3 linked regions of the Homo sapiens genome follow. The protein of the gene in region 2 interacts with the protein of the main gene of each other region in a pairwise test. Each region holds a gene or a part of one and is shown on either strand. Other genes may lie near its edges. The genes, in order: PTTG1IP, SLC22A23 and CBLIF.

Region 1 (3,747 bases), on a different chromosome or scaffold from region 2:
CATTGTAATATTCTTGACTTTGGTTTAAATAAAAAAAAAGAAAGCTGCATCAGGCTTAACCTCCATTTCTGTGAGTTTAGAATGTCTTACGAGAGTCTGAGTATGTAGCTTGGAATTTTGGTTAGTTAACTTTTCTCAGGCTTGAAATACCTTTTCAAACTCAGCTGAGACAGACTACCCTGTCACTTCAGTTCATTATGGTTAATATTATAAATTGTTAATAAATTCTAAGTCACAGATAGGAACGTGTGGCTGAAAGGAGACTTGGAGAGGGCGGGACCCTGTGGGGTGGAGGCAGGGCCACAGGCTCTCCACACGCCAGGAGCCAGCAGCCTGGCCGAGGCGGCTTTCCTCCTTATGCTCCTGTGTCCTGAGGTTGTTCCCCAGGGGCGAGGGAAGGCTGCTGTGCTGGGTGGGTTCTGTGTCTGGGGCGGCCCTAACTCCAGGTGCTTGAATCTCCAGTGAACTTTGAGGCGCTGATCATCACCATGTCGGTAGTCGGGGGAACCCTCCTCCTGGGCATTGCCATCTGCTGCTGCTGCTGCTGCAGGAGGAAGAGGAGCCGGAAGCCGGACAGGAGTGAGGAGAAGGCCATGCGTGAGCGGGAGGAGAGGCGGATACGGCAGGAGGAACGGTGAGGTGGTGGTGATGCCCGCTGGGAAGGTTACTTCGAGGGGATTCAGATCTGCAAGGCCATGGAAATCACATGGATACATCCTGAGTTTTCCTCAGTTTTTAGAAATTAAGAATGTGTATAGTGCCCAGGGGATCTTCTAGGTCGTGGTAGAGAGCGAGAGACTGTGATGGGAACCTAGCAGTGGCTGCGAACCTTGCTTCTATAGGCTTCCTCGCCCGGTGTCCTCCCATCGGTGCAGTAAGGCTGAGTCTGTGCGCGGTGACACGGGTGTGTGACGGCTGCTAAGGCGGCTCGTCCAGGCCCAGCATTTGCCAAGAGCAAGCTGAGGCTCAGAGGGGACAGCGTCTGACTGTGGCTGGGTCAGCTCTCCTGTCGCCCTTTCCCTGGTGACACAGCACTCTCCTGAGTGCTTGCTGGGGCTCTGGGGCAACCCCAGGAGGAGGTGGTGTAATCCACACCTGGCAAAGGAGAGGACCTGAGGGGCCAACTGTCAGGTTGGCGGCGGGCGAGGGTGGAAGCGGGACAGATTTTCCATGTAGTCACCTTGAAGTCACATGCTACTAAGTAAAAGCTGACAATCGCATTTTCCTCACCATCTTCAGAACCTGGTGTATGATTTTTACTGTGTTTTCTTTGTATGAAAAAAGCTTTTTAAAAATCACGGTATTGGGCATTTGAATTGCTTTTATTGAAAAGAGTAGAGTAATACATTGGAACGGCCTTTGAAGACTGGGTTCGTTGTCACCTTGCCTGTCCTGGTGGGTATGTGGCCTGATGACCAAGCTTGTCCTCACCCTGGTTTCACTCTGGGAACTGGAGGGAAGCCACCAGAAGAAACCTGGCGCCCCCACTGAGGGACACGGAAGGGCGTGTCTAGCAGTTACACCACCGTGCGCTGTCGTTTGGTGCTCATAATGTTCCTCTGTGTTTTAGGAGAGCAGAGATGAAGACAAGACATGATGAAATCAGAAAAAAATATGGTAAGGACTGGTCACGCCTCCTTTTTGTCTGGTTGGGAGGCGATGGCACGCTGTCTCGGTCCTCGTTAGTGCCAGTGTGGCCTGAGATGGGGCTGTGGGTTCACCCATCGGAACAGAAGGACGTCTCTCCAGAGAGGAGCAGCTGGCGGTTGTCCCCAGCGGTTCTGTGGTGAACTCACTCCTAAGAATATCTTTATCTCAGCCAGTCGTCTTCATGAAGTCTGTTTTCTCAGATAGCTGTTTGCTTATCGAGTCCCAAGACTTCTGGGCTGGAAGTCTGCAGCTGTTCTGCCGTCGTGTTTGGCTTCCTGTGGGCACGCCTGCGTAGCCGAGGTGCTGTGAGTTTCAGGGCGGCCCTCTCATCCTCGGGAGCGTTGCTCGTTGCCATCTTCTGAGTGTGGCAGGCGCTCCTTCCAAGCACTCCCCAGCACCGGCCCTGCTCCTTCTCGCCCAGCCTCGGCGTTCTGTTCTTGTTTGGTTGTGTCTGGAGAGATTTTGGAGAGGAGCTTTGAAGGAGCCAGAATGAATGTATTTGCCAAGTGTAAACCTTTTATTTAGTTGGAGTGAATTGGAAATACACATTACGTTATCTATACTCCCCCAAACCACGTGATGTTCACTGCTTAACACTGAACACCACCACCCAGCCGTGCTTCGTTGATTCTGTATGATTTTAAAGTCCGCAAAGAGTCTAGTGTCTCCCGCGCTGGGTTTGTGGTTGTGTGGTGTCATGGGCGTCTCCCGCGCTGGGTTTGTGGTTGTGTGGCGTCATGGACATGGTGGGAACTGACTCCTCGCCTGTGCGAGGTGCGTGGTCCTGGGTTCATGGCAGCCGTGGGCCTCAGGAATCTGTCGTCCTGCGCCCACGGTGCTTTCCTTGAAGCAGTATATTAAAGGCTAAACCTAATTGGAAAATTTCAGAGCCTTTTCTGACTAATGCACGTGTTTTGAGTCTTCTGTTTGTTTTAGGGAATATCATATATTTGTGGTATTTTAGGGTCCCACCCACTGGGGGCATGAGGACGTCGCTGCGGTTCTCGGTCATCGGGTGGGGGGTGGACGGCAAAGCCCAGCAGCCACTGTGAGCGGCGCCTCCGTCAGGTGCAGGTGATTGGCGTTGGGTTCCCTCTCATGGGGGCTGCAGAGGCCCCATGCTGCTGGTGCCCTGGACTGTAAACGCTGGGTGGCTCTGCCCACTGGCCGGGACGTCCCCTCCCTGTCAGTTCTGGCCTCCTTGGAAAGTCACCTCCATGTGACTGTGCTGTGACCTGAGGCCACGTGAGTCCTGCCGGTCTCGAAGTGTCGGCTTGGGGGCGTGAGGCTGCCTTGGCTGCTGGCCTCGAGATGCCCAGTGGCTGATAGAGGCTTTTTCCTATGTGTTCCCGCCCATCAGTCTCCTGAGTGCCGTGTGCTTGGGCGCTGACTCTCTGGGTTCTCTTCACTGCTGCCTTGTCCTTGCCCCACCCTCTCTGTCGCCTGTTGTTTCCCGGTGTGTGTCTGGAGTGGGTGGTGACCGGGTACCTGCGTGTGACTGTCATAAGGAGCAGCACCAGGGTTGCCCTCCTCAGCGAGTGCATGCCTGTGTACGTGGAGCGTGGGCCCAGCAGCATCTCTGCAGGCCTTGGCTGGAGGCATTGTGCTTTCCTTGAAATGGAAGAGTCAAGAGCTTTTTGGCACCTAATTTTTTTTTTTTTTTTTTTTTGAGACGGAGTCTCACCTTGTCGCCCAGGCTGGAGTGCAGTGGCGCGATGTCAGCTCACTGCAAGCTCTGCCTCCCAGGTTCACACCATTCTTCTGCCTCAGCCTCCTGAGTAGCTGGGACTACAGGTGCCCACCACTACGCCCAGCTAATTTTTTGTATTTTTTAGTAGAGATGGGGTTTCACTGTGTTAGCCAGGATGGTCTCAATCTCCTGACCTCGTGATCCGCCCGCCTCGGCCTCCCAGAGTGCTGGGATTATAGGCATGAGCCACCACACCCAGCCAGACTAATGTTAATGTAAATAAAAGACAAGGTGGATACACACACACGCACACGCGCACACACGCACACACTGCCCAGCACCTGTTATCACCAAGCACAAGCTGTGTTTAAGTTGCTCGACCTTTACTGTGCCCTGACTCCCAGCGG
Region 2 (3,747 bases):
ATGAAACTCTTTTCCTAGGGCCAGGGCTTCTCCCACGTAAAAATGCACATTAACAAACATCTTTGTAAACTCTTCCCTATAGTTGCCCCTGTATGATGAAATGGAGAAATCCGGTAATGTCCAGTCAGAAAATCTGGGTTCAAAACCAGATATTTGGCTCAGCTGGGGACCAACTCTTTGATCTGGTAGTCAGTCACCTGATCCTTGCTGTTTCTCTTTGAAAGCCCACTTCTTGGGGCGCTGAATGTGAGGACTGAGTGAGAGTGTGAATTTGAAAGCCAACTCTGAAACGCTGGCTATGATAGTTATTCTGATTGGAAGGGCCATTAAGGTCAATGGCAATGCTCCTTTTGTGATCAGTTACAAGAAAACAAATGGGTCCTTGTGACTGTGGGGGAAGGGAGGCAGAGCCAGACACAAAGTGGACCTCTTCTGGAAAATCAGCCACTGAAAGGAAAATAAATAAAATCCGTAAAGTTATATTTCAATTCAAAAAGAAATGTGGATTGTATGTAATGGCAAGAGGAGCACTGGTAATAATACATGTCTAACATTCATTGCGCACTTACTCTGTTCCAGGCATGGAGGTCAGAACTTTGCATGTATTAGCTCTTCAAATGAGGGGAGGAGAGGGAAGGAAAAGAAAAGTTAAGCTAATAAATAATGTGAAGTTGAAAAATTACCACGTACACAACGTGCACTATCGTGTCCCCCCCCGCCCCAAGCCCCCAGCTCTTTATATATGTGGTTTCCAGACCCATTTCTCAGCGGTCTGGTGTCTTTTGCAGCCCTTAGGGCCCCTTCCGCCCATTGTTATCTAATCACCCCTTCTCGGCCACGCAGGAAGGTCCACAACCTCCCCTGTCCCCCAAGACCCGCCCCCCGGCAGCCTTCAGAAATAGTTCTCTGGTACGTATGTGCCAGCATTTTATGCAGTAAACACATGTTGCCCTTAACACTGAACTGCAGGTTAAAAATGTATTCCACTAAATTGTGCAGCGGTTAGCTGAGCAAATAATGAAAATGCAAAAGAATACATTCAGTATATGGAGCTTAGAATATATCCTTTTGGAAAGCTAAACATTTTTTTTTTTTTTGCCCCAAATAAGACTAGAAATGGATTGCTCCATTTAAGACTTCCATTAATAAACTTCTCAGAATATGAAATGCCTCCAAAATGTGGGGACGCTGGGTTGAAAGGTGCCGGATAATTCTCTTTGGTGCGTGCGCTGGGTGCAGGAGGAAATATGCTAATGTAGCCGTTTGCCGCAGGGCTGGTGTTATTTATACAGCGCTGGCTGGGCAAGGTTGGCGCTGGAGCAGGAGAGGAGGGAGAGGTTTGTCTTCTTGTGTGAGAGTATAGATGTGTGCGCCTGTGCACACGGCGTTCCAAACGTGAATACAAGATCTTAGGGAGGGGGTGGGGAATGCCATCACGTTTATACTGTGTGTATTATAACTTGTGTTGGAGATATATCCCAGCATCGTGCTTACATCGCATGCACTTAGGAGTGGGGGAAGAAATGGCGATTTGGGAGTGGGTGCGGCGGGTCGCAGGTGGCCAGACACTGCGGGGGACTGGCGACCTGAAATTGGCAAAGGCGCCTCCTTGACCCTGCTCCACGGACACAAAAATCAACCTTATTCGCTCCTGGAAAAAGCGCAGAGGGTTGTTCCCGAAGGCTGAAGACCCTCGGGCTTGGGACTGGGAGCGGGGCGCGGGCAGCGGGACCGCCGGGCACCTCTGAAGAGACAGAGGTCACGGAGACCTGGCGCGCGCGGAGTGGGTGGGGGGCCCGCGCGGCTGCGGGAGCCCAGCCTCAGAGAAGACCCGGCCCACACGTTCTCAGCGCACGCCGACTTTGCCGGGACCCGTCGCCGGCCGGCGACCCCTGCTACGCGCGTCTCCTCCTCCCCCGCCCCGCCCGGCGCGAAACGGGCAACGGGCAGGGGATCCTCCAGCCAGGCGGGCCCGGGGTGTCCCGTTTCCCCCGCCCCCCTCCCGTGGATCCCGGGCGGCGGCGGCCGCGCGTCCGGGCTGGAGGGGGCGCTCGCGAGCAGGAGCCGAGCGCAGCAGGTGCCGCGGTTACCTCCACCTCGGCGGGGGGAGAGGGGGCGGGCCGGGGGGCAGGGAGGAGGGGGAGGAGGAGGAGGAGGAGGAGGAGTGGGGCCGGCTCCAGGAGCTGGAGAGCGCGGCCGGCTCGGCAGGCTGGGTCCAGAGCTCGCGGCTTCCGGGAGGCGCCCGAAGTCGGAGAAATACAGCGCGGCCACCCCGGGAGCAGCAGCCTTTGCCCGCACCGCCGCCCGCAGGGCCCTGAACCGCCGGCAAGGGCGCGGGCCGGGCGCGGCGCCGGCTCCTCCTCCTGCCGCGTCCGGCGCGGAGCAGCGGAGAGCGGCGGGCTCGGCAGCCGGCGCCCGGGCCGCGGAACTGATGAGCCGCGGCGGCTGAGGGCCCGGCCGGCCTCTGCCCGCCTCTGCCCGGCGCCCGAGCGGGGCCGCAGCGCCCGGGGCGCGGGGTCCGGCGGGTGACATGGGGGCGGCCTGACGCACCCGGAGCCGCCGAGCGCTCTCTCTCGAGCCGCGGGCCCTCCTCGGCGGCAGCGGCTGCAGGCGCCTGGCCCGGCGCGCTGTGCCCGGGGCGCCCGCGGAGCCTCCGCCGCGCTCTATGCGCCTCTGCGGGAGCCGCGGGCCCGGGCCATGGCCATAGACCGGCGGCGCGAGGCGGCGGGCGGCGGGCCTGGGCGGCAGCCGGCCCCGGCCGAGGAGAACGGCTCCCTGCCGCCCGGGGACGCGGCGGCCTCGGCGCCCCTCGGGGGACGCGCGGGCCCCGGCGGCGGCGCGGAGATCCAGCCGCTGCCCCCACTGCATCCTGGAGGCGGCCCGCACCCGAGCTGCTGCTCCGCGGCTGCGGCCCCGAGCCTCTTGTTGCTGGACTATGACGGGTCGGTGCTGCCCTTCCTCGGGGGCCTGGGCGGGGGCTATCAGAAGACCCTCGTGCTGCTCACCTGGATCCCGGCGCTGTTCATCGGCTTCAGCCAGTTCTCGGACTCGTTCCTCCTGGACCAGCCCAACTTCTGGTGCCGCGGGGCCGGCAAAGGCACCGAGCTGGCAGGGGTCACCACCACAGGCCGGGGCGGGGACATGGGCAACTGGACCAGCCTCCCCACCACCCCCTTCGCCACTGCCCCCTGGGAGGCTGCGGGCAACCGGAGCAACAGCAGCGGCGCGGACGGAGGCGACACACCACCCCTGCCATCCCCTCCGGACAAGGGGGACAACGCCTCCAACTGTGACTGCCGCGCATGGGACTACGGCATCCGCGCCGGCCTCGTCCAGAACGTGGTCAGCAAGGTAAGGGCCGCAGCCGCCCAGTCCCTCCAACCCTCTCCCTGCAGACCGAGGTCCAAGCCCGAGCCAGCGGGAGAACCGAAGTCCCCAAAGTGGTGGTGCTAGAGTGTGTGTAGGGCATTCCGCATTGGCTTAATCTCCTTCCGTCCCCCAAACCACATGCCTTTACTTGGGTGTAAAGGGAGCACCATAGCCTTTACTAGTTTGCACCCAAACTCCTGTCCCAGTACGCGGATGGAAAGCGCGCCCTTCCCCCACCCTCGGGGCGAGGCAGCTGACCTGTCACCAGCCCCCTCTGGAGGAGTCGGACTGGCGTCGTTCAAGGTCTGCTGGGGGAGTCGGGACCACAGCCCTGTTCTGCCCGGCTAGTTGTCCCTGGGTCTCCCACAAAGCAATAGT
Region 3 (3,747 bases), on a different chromosome or scaffold from region 2:
CACAAGTTCCAGGGATTAGGGCATGGGCATTTGGCGGTGTGTGGGCAGTGCCATTATTCTGCCTCCTACTCCTTCACACAGCATGCAAGGCTGTCCACCAAGTAGATGCCAACTGTCTTTCCAGCCTCATCTTCCACCATGTACCATGTATTGGATATATATTGCTGCATAACAAGTGACTTTAAAACTTAGGGGCCTAAGACAACATTTATTATCCCACAGTTTCTGTGGGTCAGGAGTCCAGGGAGGGTTTACATGGGTCCTCTGGCTTAGGAGGGTCTCTCCCAGGGCTGCAATCAAGATGTCAGCTGGGGCTGCCTTCATCTCAAAGCTCACTGGGGAAGGGTTCTTTTCTCCCTGAATATCGGCTGGAGGCTACTCTCAGGGGCCATATGTGGGCTTCTCCATAAGGCAGCTCACACTTAGCAGCTGCCTTCATGAGAGCAGGAAGGGCAAGAGAGAGAAGGCAAGCAAGAGGGAAATCGGTCTTTTGCAACCACATCCCATCACCTTTGCTGCATTATATTCATTATAATAGAATGTGGCCCCAGGCCAGCCCACACTCTAGGGAAGAGGACTACACAAGGCATGAATACCGGGAGGTGAAAACACAGGGCCATGTTAGAAGTTGTCCAGCACACCCCAGTATGTACCCTGTGCTCTCATCTCACAAAACTCACCCATGTTTCCCAAGGGGGAAAAAATGCTTTATTACCCATGTCTTACATTTGCTCATTAATTCACTCATTCAAAAAGTATTTTATTTCTACTGTGAGCTAGGTAGTGTTGTAAGGGCTAAGGATAGAGCAGTGAGCCAAAGAGACAAAGCCCCTCCCTCGTGGAGCAGACATTCTAGTAGGGAGATAAACAAACGATAAACAACCACACACTTAGTGCGACAGAGGGCAATGAGTTATAGCAGGCGAGGGGCATGAGGGGTGTCAGTGGAGGTGAGGATGTAGGATCTTATGTAGGGTGGCCTGGGAAGGCGTCTCTAAAAGCTTACCTCTGAGCAGAGACATGAAGGATGTGAGGAAGCCACCATGAGGCTATTTAAAAGAAGAGGGTCCTGGGCTGAGGGGGACATCATGTGCAAAGGTAGCTGATGTGTTCAAGGGGCACAAGAAGTTCTGTGTGATGGGAGCGGTGTGAGCAAAGGGGAAAACGCCTGGAGCTGAGGTCAGAAAGGAAACCAGGAGCCAGATCTTCTAAGGTCTTATAGGTCATGAAAAGGGCTTTGACTTTTATGCTAAGATGGGCGCCACTGGAGAATATCCCCTTAAAATGAGCTACTTTACATGCAGGAAAAAAACAAACAAAACTCCTTTCTTTATAATTTCAACATACCATTTTCAGTTCTCCCTTATAAAGAAGTATAATTTGCATTATAATGTAGCTACACATCTGAAATATGTATTCTTAATGGATCTCACATTTTCTAATTACTTACTTTAAAAGATAATATCTGAAAGCTTTGGGTGTTTGAGATGGCTTTTATCTCCAGATAAGGAAAGAGAAATCAAACAAAACCATTTCTGGGAAACCGAGGTCCATTTCTTGCCTAAAGTCAAACAACTTCAAAGAGTCTAGGCTAGAATCCAGGTCCAGGTAGACATCATTAATTTCACAAAGCCAGATGTCACCTGGCAGATCCCTGCCTGAGAGCCTAAAAGGACATGTTGTAAAGCAGGTGTCTAGGATCATAAAATGAGCTGATGCCTATGAATGGCCTAAATCCCAGTGAAGTAGTTACTAAAAAGCAGCCTGGTAACTGATTGGATACAATAAGGGCTAGAAGAGGTCTTGTTGATACTAGCACATTATCCAAACTTCCTGATGTCTGACCCAGGCCTTTGGTAAAGGACATTTTCTCAACATTGCCTTCACTGCATACCCAGCCCCAGGTTTCTCATATGACTGTGCAACCTAGAAGTCACCTTCAGACACCTTGGAGGGTCTATAGTCGGTAAACTTAGATAAGCAAATGAAAATTTACTTACTTGTATCAGGAAAGGAGAGGTCAGCACAGGGGCAGTTAGGAGAGGCTGGGTTGGGGACAGATTATTTAACAAAGGGAAGCACATATAAGAGAAGGTAAAGAAATATTCCACTTGCAAATCGCGGTACCTGTGGATGAGAGACATAGACGAGAGAGTGAGATGGCCTGGTTTGCCCTCTACCTCCTGAGCCTTCTCTGGGCTACAGCTGGGACTAGTACCCAGACCCAGAGTTCATGCTGTGAGTATGATGTTTTTCCAAGGAGGTCAGGGAAGCAGTTGCCCTGGGGAAGGGGCTGTGACCTCTGACACTGAGTGGTTGAAAATAGCAATCACTATAGGAATTCCAAAATGGGTAAGTCTGAGTGTGATTGTGTGCTGTTCATCCTTCCTGACTTAATAGCATAAGTTCTTTGAGAGACAAGTCTATATGTTTTTTATTAAGAGAGATGGGGCCAGGTGCAGTGGCTCACACCTGTAATCCCAGCACTTTGGGAGACTGAAGCAGGAGGATTGCTTGAGCCCAAGAGTTCAAGACCAGCCTGGGCAACATGGTGAGACTCCATCTCTACAAAAAAAATAAATAAATAAAAATAAAAAATTAGCTGGGCGCAGTGGCATGCACCTGTGGTCCCAGCTACTCAGAAAGCTGAGGTAGGAGAATCGCTTGAGCCCAGGAGGTCGAGGCTGCAGTGAGCTATAATCACACCACTGCACTCCAGCCTAGATGACACAGCAGCACCCTGTCTCAAAAAATCAATAAATAAAAATAATAGAGATGGAAGTACTACTGCAGGAATAATGGTTGATGGTACAAAGACAGACACTCAGTGGCTATTGTGACCAGACACCACTACATACTAGTGAGAGATTTTGGTACTCACTGAGGATAAATTATATCCCAAATCTTTAATACTCTTCATGAAAGAGTAAGGAAAAAAATGAATGCAAGGAAATCAGTGATTTCCAGGAAAGTGATAGAAACTATGAGAAATGTCATGAGCCATATTGCTTGAAGTTACTAAATTTAAAAATCACTTTCTTAAGGATATGGATTATTTGAGAAGATGTAGAAACTAATTGTCCTCAAAAGTAAAATCTCACCATTTTCTCCATTTCTCTTTAGTGACTTAGGACACTAATGCTAATCAAGTGTTCTCCTAAAAGGCATCAAAGATGGCCAGGCGAGGTGGCTCACGCCTGTAATCCCAGCACTTTGGGAGGCCAAGAAGGGTGGATTACCTGAGGTCAGAAATTCGAGACTACCCTGGCCAACATGGTGAAACCCCATCTCTACTAAAAATACAAAAATTAGCCTGGCGTGGTGGTGCACACCTGTAATCCCAGCTACTCAGGAAGCTGAGGCAGGAGAATCACTTGAACCTGGGAGGCAGAGTTTGCAGTGAGCCGAGATCGTGCCATTGCACTCTAGCCTGGGCAACAAGAGTAACACTGTCTCAAAAAAAAAAGAAAGAAAGAAAAAGCATCAAAGACACGGGGATAATGTTTTTGAGAAGGAATGAGGGTTAGAAGGTGAGTAAATGGCTTTCCTCTTCTCAGCCGTTCCCTCAGCACAGGAGCCCTTGGTCAATGGAATACAAGTACTCATGGAGAACTCGGTGACTTCATCAGCCTACCCAAACCCCAGCATCCTGATTGCCATGAATCTGGCCGGAGCCTACAACTTGAAGGCCCAGAAGCTCCTGACTTACCAGCTCATGTCCAGCGACAACAACGGTGAGACATCTGA

The links.
Region 1: the proteins of SLC22A23 (region 2) and PTTG1IP interact in binary tests that used the Homo sapiens proteins (3 or more experiments, as listed by UniProt).
Region 3: the proteins of SLC22A23 (region 2) and CBLIF interact in binary tests that used the Homo sapiens proteins (3 or more experiments, as listed by UniProt).

What each region holds. Positions count from the first base shown.
Region 1 is NC_000021.9:44,853,080-44,856,826, reverse strand, and holds part of PTTG1IP (pituitary tumor-transforming gene 1 protein-interacting protein isoform 1 precursor), read left to right. Parts: intron 1-462; coding exon 463-634; intron 635-1,570; coding exon 1,571-1,617; intron 1,618-3,747. UniProt on the Homo sapiens protein: May facilitate PTTG1 nuclear translocation.
Region 2 is NC_000006.12:3,455,510-3,459,256, reverse strand, and holds the start of SLC22A23 (solute carrier family 22 member 23), read left to right. Parts: upstream 1-2,206; 5' UTR 2,207-2,697; coding exon 2,698-3,351; exon of another isoform or gene 3,352-3,554; intron 3,555-3,747.
Region 3 is NC_000011.10:59,843,866-59,847,612, reverse strand, and holds the start of CBLIF (cobalamin binding intrinsic factor precursor), read left to right. Parts: upstream 1-2,113; 5' UTR 2,114-2,159; coding exon 2,160-2,238; intron 2,239-3,557; coding exon 3,558-3,734; intron 3,735-3,747. UniProt on the Homo sapiens protein: Promotes absorption of the essential vitamin cobalamin (Cbl) in the ileum. After interaction with CUBN, the CBLIF-cobalamin complex is internalized via receptor-mediated endocytosis.